Linked DNA regions of Homo sapiens. The protein of the gene in region 2 interacts with the protein of the main gene of each other region in a pairwise test. Each region holds a gene or a part of one and is shown on either strand. Other genes may lie near its edges.

The links. The genes of interacting proteins can lie anywhere in the genome.
Region 1: the proteins of SDHB (region 2) and XRN1 interact in a two-hybrid assay, tested with the Homo sapiens proteins (one large-scale study listed by BioGRID).

Annotation. Positions count from the first base shown.
Region 1 is NC_000003.12:142,308,105-142,312,772, forward strand, and holds part of XRN1 (5'-3' exoribonuclease 1), read right to left. Parts: intron 4,655-4,668; coding exon 4,494-4,654; intron 3,710-4,493; coding exon 3,407-3,709; 3' UTR 1-3,406. UniProt on the Homo sapiens protein: Major 5'-3' exoribonuclease involved in mRNA decay. Required for the 5'-3'-processing of the G4 tetraplex-containing DNA and RNA substrates. The kinetic of hydrolysis is faster for G4 RNA tetraplex than for G4 DNA tetraplex and monomeric RNA tetraplex.
Region 2 is NC_000001.11:17,019,609-17,023,717, forward strand, and holds part of SDHB (succinate dehydrogenase [ubiquinone] iron-sulfur subunit, mitochondrial isoform 1 precursor), read right to left. Parts: intron 3,123-4,109; coding exon 3,000-3,122; intron 1-2,999. UniProt on the Homo sapiens protein: Iron-sulfur protein (IP) subunit of the succinate dehydrogenase complex (mitochondrial respiratory chain complex II), responsible for transferring electrons from succinate to ubiquinone (coenzyme Q).

The sequences.
Region 1 (4,668 bases), on a different chromosome or scaffold from region 2:
TAAAAGTAAAAATTAGACAACCACTATAAACAGTTATGACTAACACAAATAGAACACATAAATAAAAAGTGAGTAAAAAAGACCTTACAGTTTATCTATTTCCTTGTGCTAGAAAGATACGGTATAGTCCAAAAATGCAGTGACTGGGTATGTCTTATTTAACTGTTTTTCTTCTTCCATCTGCCTCCCTCTCTCTGCCTCCTCTCATTAAAACCAAGAATCTAGCTTAGTTTGGAAGTAGCAGTCTAAAATGAAAGCAGGTACCTGATCATAGAAAGAAACAATAAAAAAACTTGCATCAATAGTTCTTCATTCCTCCACCAATCGGGAAAAAAACCCTTCAATCTTTATTAGTTACCCCTTTGAAAAGCAAGAAAAATCTTAAATTGAAACCAAGGTTCAGTAGAGGTGACTTTAATTTTTTTCTGCAACTACAACTGAGTCTTAGATGTTTAAGACTTTAGTCTACATGATGTTTAAATCAATTAATACATTCAAATTCTAACGCTGAGGTAATTATTAGGTAATGCAGGAAAATGTGAAAAGGAACGAGACTGGAAGGAGCAATCTTCAAAATTCACTTAAGTTGCTCAAAAAAGAAAAAACTTATTGAATAGAAATATTTAGAAATAATGTTTCAGTTAGGAGACAAAGGCTTAAATAGATTGAAGTGCTCTAGTTATGTGGAAGCATAAAGCAATTTGGGGAATCTGTCCTATGCCCTAAACAGTCCACCATTTTCACAAAAAGTCCTCAGAAGATTCAAGTTGAATGAGCATATTTTTAAACTTTGGGGGTGGTCTTAGTCCACCCCATCTCAAAGAGAGAATTTTAAATTTCTTGAAGTCCAACTGCTTTTCAGATATACTCTAAATTCCAGGTCTATCAACAGATTGTTTCCTCAACATGGGGCAGAAATGGCCTCTGCTTCTTACATCCTCCATAGGGAGGGCACATCTCCCATTGACCTCAGGCCCACATTTAGAATGGGTCTACAGGGGGAAAAGAATAGAGAATGCCTGACCACTATCCAGCCATTATGGAGCTCTCTCCTATCTTAATCTCTTCTCAGTTTTGACCTTTAGAATAATAATGTTAAAAAAAAAGTAAGGATAATAAAACTTTTTTCTTTTTTTTGAGACAGAGTCTTGCTCTGCTCTCCAGGCTGGAGTGCAGTGGTGCAATCTCGGCTCACTGCAGACTCTGCCTCGCGGGTTCAAATGATTCTCATGCCTCAGCCTCCCGAGTAGCTGGGACTAAAGGCATGTGCCATCACGCCCGGCTAATTTTTGTATTTTTAGTAGAGACAGGGCTTCATCATGTTGGCCAGGCTTGTCTGGAACTCCGGACCTCAAGTGATCCGCCTGCCTTAGCCTCCCGAAGTGCTGGGATTTGAGCCACTGCGCCTGGCTGGAAAATAAAACTCTTTCACTGCCTATCTGTATAGAACTGTCAGCTTGCTGTGCTCAAATATTGGTCAAGTATCCTTATGGGTTTAGTGCACTATGTCTACTGAAATTTCCCTTTGGAGTTTTCAGAAGATGGCAGGTGCCGCTTCTTCTATGCTCTAAAACAGATGTGAGCTGCATGCTATTTATATAACTGTCACACAGGAGTAATGAGTGAGGCAAATTCTCAATGCTGGAGTTTGTACAGCTGAGGTGAAACATTTCACACTTTAAAGTAGGAAGAGGTTAATATAACATTACTGTCACAATTTAACTTTTCTTTGTATTACCATAATAGATGTTTCCTTTAAAAACAAAGAGAGAGTTTATGAGGCAATAATTATACACATTGAGGATTTACTTGAGCCTCATTACTCAAGATCCCACTACAGATAAAGAAACAATGTTGGGAACTGATAAACATCTGAACTTATGAAAATAACAGAAAATAAAATCATGGAAACTTATACGACTATGATAAATGACAGATAATGAATATTTCTCTCTTATACTGAAGGCACTGCTAATACACAAATATCCTGCTAACATTTAAACTCTGAAATCAGCAGTTAGTGAAAGGAGTCCATTTAGTTTAATACCAGCATTTTAAAAAACAAGTAAGACTACTTTAAGAGTCATGGCAGAGTTTCCAATGAGTTACATGAAAATCAGATATAACAAGCTGCTCCATATAAAGATTGTGGTTCCTACTTTTAAAAAAGTATGCTATAACTTACTTCCTTAAAAATATAAGCATATCACAAAAACTAAAGAATAAATATATATATATATATAAACATAGGCCCTGCTGAGAAATCGTCATAAATTCTAAAATAATTTCAACAGTTACAGCTTGAACCACACATTCACATATGACATGCAAAGAGAGAATCCCAGCATCATTGAACAGTTCAGCATAAAGCTAAAAATATAGAATCAGAATGAAATAGGCAGTAAATAATGTATGTCACAAACTGATGACTGTGCCTCCTATATTGTAGCACACCTTGGAACTTAAACAACAATTAGAATTTCTTCAGTCCCAAGAAGCACTACATACCGACCAACTATGAAGCTCTCATAAAATGTCAGGTAAGCAAATAAAAAGCTATACAAAATAATACAGTTTATTAATTAACATGACTAATATTTCATATTTTATTTTGTTAGAAGATTAATTTGTAATCATTGTACCCTGTAGATTTTGAAACAATTTTACTAGAAATTACTAATGCTGGTTCTTGAGTAACCTAAAAAATTGTATTTACTCAAATTTAGAATGCTATTTATAGTTCTAAGCAGTTAGATGAAATATTCTGATTATTCTAAAGTTGCTTTGGTACAAAATTTAGAATAAAGCAAAACTGGCAGCACCACAACAAATGTGATCCTTTCACAGCAGGTCTAAAGACCCTCAGAGGCAACAAAGCATAAGTTAAAACACACATAAATAAGAGCCATTCTCCTGACAATTTTCTTACATCATTAAAAAGAGAAATAAAATCCACATTCAGTAAGTTATACTGGAGGCCCAAATTTCATGCTCCATGTAATTATTCCTCAATGATAGTGTAAAAAATGCTTATTATTGCTAACTGATGTCTAATTCATAGTTCAGGATGCTTCAATCATGAGGCCAATGATTAGAGTGGTACATTTTAATGTTTAGTCCACTGATACTGTGATATTATTTTAATGCAAGGTTTAATTTAGTTTTTTATTACAGATTTATTGAGGTATAATTGACATACAACAAACTGCACATACTTAAAGTGCACAATTTGATACACAGTCTTTTAAACAGCATGAAAAGTGCCTGATAACTTAAAAATGAAAAAAATTTCAATTTACACATATTATTTTAAAATAGTACATTCTAATTTTTATGAGACATAGATATGTATTTATAAAAAGGTAGATGGAAAGAGAAGAAATTAACTTAATTCTAAGAGCCAAATTTACTCAGAAGGTTTAGAAACACCAAAATTAACAGCCAGTTTTCTTGATTTTCTTCTTGAAGAAGAGATTGGTGTTGACTTATGGTGAGATATACTATGGCCTTGAGAGGCAGTTTCAACTTGAAAAGAAGATGCAGGTTGAGCAATCGGAGAGGACTTCAAAGAAGCTGATGAGCTCTCCCGTGGACTTACTTTGACAATGTTGGAAGAATCTGGCTGGCTAGTCTGAACTGGAGTGGCTTGAGAACTCTGGGCTTCCTTATTCTCAAAGTTCTTTTTGTTTGCAACCCTTTTTTTAGTAACCTGTTAGGAATAAAAGCATCACTAATTAATAATGTAGGCAAAAAATTAGCTAGTGTTGGAAATTACCATAAACCATGCATGCTGTTAATATTTGTCAATCACAGCTGATCTGTGACTTCCACTTATAATTGCCAAGTAAGACTTTAGTAATTCAAAGGACTTAGTTACAAACAAAATATTTAAAATTCTTGGGCTGTGTGCAGTGGCTCACAACTGTAATATCAGCACTTTGGGAGGCCGAGGCAGGTGGATCGGTAGAGACCTAGGGTTCGAGACCATGGCAAAACCCCATCTCTACAAAAAAATTACAAAAACTAGACAGGCATGGTGGCACATGCCTGTAGCCTCAGGTACTCGGGAGTCTAAGATGGGAGGATCACTTGAGCCCAGGAAGTCAAGGCTGCAGGGAGTCGAGATTGTGCATGGGCTGCGTTCCAGCCTGGGCTACAGAGTGAGATCCTTCTCCAAAAAAATGAATAATAATAATAATAATAAAAATACAATTCTTCATAGGTTATTTTGAAAATATTTGTGATTTTATTTATATTACTGATTTTAATCAATCTGTATTAGAATAGCATATTACTTGGTACAATTATTGTTTATTAGAACACAAACTCAGAGAGCAGAGACAGGTCAGACTTGTCAACCATTGCCTTCTTACTACCCACACTAGTACTGAACTTCTAGTTGGCACTGAATAAGTAAACTGAATAAAAAAATGTTTATCAATAGTCTTTCAGCATTAAACAAATAATTATCTTAAAAATATTATTTTTCTTACCTGCAGAGGTATAAACTGATTGTGCACACCCCCTGGTATTCCCCCAGCCATGGGCATGGTCCCAGAATATAAAGTATGATGGAAGGGCTTCCCAGGAACTGGCACCGATGGTCCCCATGGCATTGAGCCAAAGAGATGAGACGACGAAGGCATTATATTAGCTGTTAAAAACCAA
Region 2 (4,109 bases):
AGACAAGTACTCATCTGACGTTAGTGAAGGTTCCCCTCATTTTAGAAGGATAAGTCTACCCCCCTAAAAAAGTGTTGTGGAAAGAAAGAAGAAAAGGAAAGAAAGAAAAGAGATCTTGAGAGAAGAAGAGAAAGAAAAAATATATATTTTTTTGACAGGGTCTTGCTCTGTCATCCAGGCTGAAGTGTGATCATAGTTCACTGTGGCCTGGAACACCTGGCTCAAGTGATCCTCCGGCCTCAGCCTCTCAAGTAACTGAAACTACAGGTGCGTGCCACCACACCTGGCTAATTAAAAAAAATTTTGTTTGTAGAGATGGGATCTCACTATGTTGTCCAGGCTGGTCAAAAAGACACTCTTCATATACCAACATGGGATAATCTCCAAAATATAGTGGGTGAAAAAATACAGATAAATGTGATATAAGAAAGACAGAAGAGGACACATATGCATTTGTGTGCAGCATAAAACACCTCTGAAGTTCACACAAGAATCTGACTTCTAGGGAGGTGGCTGGGTGGAGTGGGAGGGAGAATTTTCACTGTATATCCTTCTGAATCTGGATCTACCTGTGTATTTCCGGTCCCCACAGGGTCAGTAAGGGTGTTTAGACTTAGAAGGTTGGTACATACCCAATCCATGCAGGAAGAAAGAGCACTGGATGGGGAGGCAGACGGCCTAACTCTAGTCCTACCTTCCCACTGACCTGACAGTGATCTGGGGCGAGTCACTCCCCTCCCCACCTGGGGCTCAATTTCCCCATCTGTATAAGGGGATTAAACTTGATGGTTTTCAAGTCCCTTCCAGTTTCATGATCGGCCTATGTCTATGTCTCAGTCCCAACTTCCAGCCCTGTTTTACAGAAGGGAGGGCAAGGCACAGAGAACCTGTTCTTGGCTGTCTCAGTTGTCTGCTGCACCCATCCCCTCCATGCACAGGTTTGTGACCAGGAATGCACCTTAGAGTCACTCGCAGAGCTTCTGAAGAAACACACAGCCAGGCCCCACCACTGAAGATGCTATCTCTGTCTCAAACAAGCCCAGTACTCATGTTTTTTTAAAAAATAACATAAGGTGACATTTATTGGGTGCTTACTATGTGCCAGGCACTGTTCCAAGCACTTTTATAGCATAACTTGCCTCAGAGGTCAGTAGCTATTCACAGGCACAATCATGGTAAACCACAGTCCTGGGGACAGGACCCAGATGGAAGCCCAGGCAATAGGGAGCTGAAGCCTGTGGGCTCCCCCAGCGAGGCCACTGGAAACACAGAGGGTTTCCAGGCAAAAAATAAGTGAATTCTACAGCTTGGATTTCATGTTTTCAAACACACAGTGTGATCTTTTTTTACGGCTAACTGGCCACCCTACAGTTTTCCACCTTGCCGCCCACTGACTCACTGCAACTTTTGAGTGAAATCACCCACAGTCTTTGCTCGGAGGGCAGCCGTGTTCTGAACCACACAGCCCTAGCCCTTCCCTGCCCACTGGGCAAGGCTGACTGGACCAGGGCTGACACCTGCTATGGTTTGAATGTGTCCCCAAAAGCTCATGTGTTGAAAACCTAATCCCCAATGCAACAGTATTGAGAGGTGGGACCTTTAAGAAGTGATTAGATTATGAAGGCTCTGCCCTCACAAATGGATTGCCATTATCATAGGAGTAAGTTCCTGATAAAAGGATGAGTTTGGATTAGTCAGGTGTGGTGGTGTGTGCCTGTAGTCCCAGCTACTCAGGAGGTAGGAGGATCACTTAAGGCCAGCAGTTCCAGGCTGCAGTGAGCTATGATTGCGCCACTGCACCCCAGCCTGGGCAACACAGTGAGACCCTGTCTTTTAAAAAAAACAGATGAGAGGGGCCGGTCGCGGTGGCTCACGCCTGTAATCCCAGCACTTTGGGAGGCCAAGGTGGGTGGATCACCTGAGGTCGGGAGTTCGAGACCAGCCTGACCAACATAGAGAAACCCTATCTCTACTAAAAATACAAAATTAGCCAGGCATGAGTGGTGCCTGCCTGTAATCCCAGCTACTCGGGAGGCGAATGCAGGAGAATCACTTGAACCTGGGAGGCGGAGGTTGTGGTGAGCTGAGATCGATCGTGCCATTGCACTCCAGCCTGGGCAACAAGAGCGAAACTCTGTCTCCAAAAAAAAAAAAGGCTGAGCTTGGGCTCCCTTTCTCTTGCCCTTCTGCCTTTTGCCATGGGGTAATACAGCACGAAGGTTCTTGTTAGATGCTGGCGCCAGCCTCTAGAGCTGTGCGTCAAATAAACTTCTTTATAAAATTACCCAGTCTGAAATTCTGTGATAGTACCACAAAACAGACTGAGACAGAACCTGGCCAAAGGGCAGCCGGTCTGTAGCCAGCTGTGGCCTCTGATGTGCAGGCATGAGAAGGTGAGCTGGGCCAATGCGACACCCTCTCAGGAAACTGTGCTGAGAAGTGCTGGGAGGCAGGCGGGTGGCTGAAGCTGGAAGTGTGCTGGGAGGCAAAATCCAGGCCAGAGTGAGCCAAAAGCAGCAGCAAATGCGAGCAGGAAGAGGAACGAAAGCCAGAGCTTTGAGTCAGAGAAAACCTCCACAGAGCCGAAGGAAAGAACAGGCTGCTAGAGAGCAGAGCAGATTAGCAGCTGACATCGCGAGAAAGATGGAGAAGAAATGAAGTCCTCACAGCTGCCCACGTTCCAACGGCTTTCGCTTTCTGTTTCCTGGGAAGGTTGAACGCAGGTACCTGCTCATGGGTTCCTGTGCATCCTTAACTCCCACAATGTCCCTGTGTAGCCTACAAATAAAGCCTGCTCCTGAGGTGGCCCGAGTCAGTCTACTCCTTGCAACTAAGAGCCAAACTAGCCCCTAGGCTCACACTGAAAGGACAGGCATATGCTGGTCCCTTTCCTTCTCAAATGACTAGGGTTGCTCTCTGCCAATCACCTCTTTGTGAGCACATGCTACTTCTGGCGTGTCAGCTCTGAGGCAGAGCTGAGGGTCACCAGCCCCACGTACCTTAGGACAGGTCCTTGTGCAGTTCATGATGGTGTGGCAGCGGTATAGAGAGAATGGGTCCTGCAGCTTGGCCAGGCGCTCCTCTGTGAAGTCATCTCTGGAGTCAATCATCCAGCGATAGGCCTGGAAAACCAGGGATGATTAGCTGAGCTGCCAATCAACAGGCCAGAGCGGCACCCTGGCTCAACTCAAAGCTCTGGGAGTGCAGAGGAAAGGGAATTCACTCAGCTTAGATGCCTCATCTCCATACTCTTTAATTCTTGTCCATCTTTCAAGGAAAGGTTCCCAACACTTGTAGCTTCACTTGATTAATGGTCCCTGCAAACCTTTGATCCATACTGCACCTGGTACCCGGGTGCTTAATTATACACACTGGGTATCATCTCCTAATTATTTCACATTGCTCAATAGCTTCCTACCCAGCTTATAATTTGGTGAAGGCAGGGACTGTATCATATAACTCTTATCTGTCTTCATGGCACCTACCCATGCTGGACTTGCTGTCTCTGAGTAAAGGAATGATTTAACAGACCTGTCTACAGATAGTATTTGTCCCACTTAATGATTCTTTGAACTTACACAGCGCTCTCAGCAGCCTGAGATCAGCAGGCTGAAACGAGTTAATCACATGACCATAGGCCTGCTCTAGCAGTGTTACTTAGAGGACCTCTACATCCCCAACTCGGAGCAGCTGGCAAAAGTGACAAGTATGAGTGTACTTCATTATCCAATCTTCACATGGCTGGGAATCAATATTGCTCATGTGGTCACACAAACCTGTAACTTCTCTTTTTGTGGGAAAATGAGAAAGAGAAGTTGGTTTTTGAGTTGCCTAGAGTCTGTGAAAAGCACGTATCTAAAAAAGCACAAGCTTTCTGGGAACAAAGACAGTGACTTTCTTTGCAGTGAACATCAATACTATTTTCTTTCTAAGCAACCCCTAAATCCAGGCTTTCATTAGCTGGGAAACAGCTTCCAATCTCATAGCTGGGCAGCTGCCCTTCAAAGACACTGCTTTCTCCCCTGCTTGCTCGCTACAAGTCTTATGTTACAAATCCTATGAGAGGGAGAGGGGGAGCCTCTGACCACCAGGCAAACGGAAATACATTT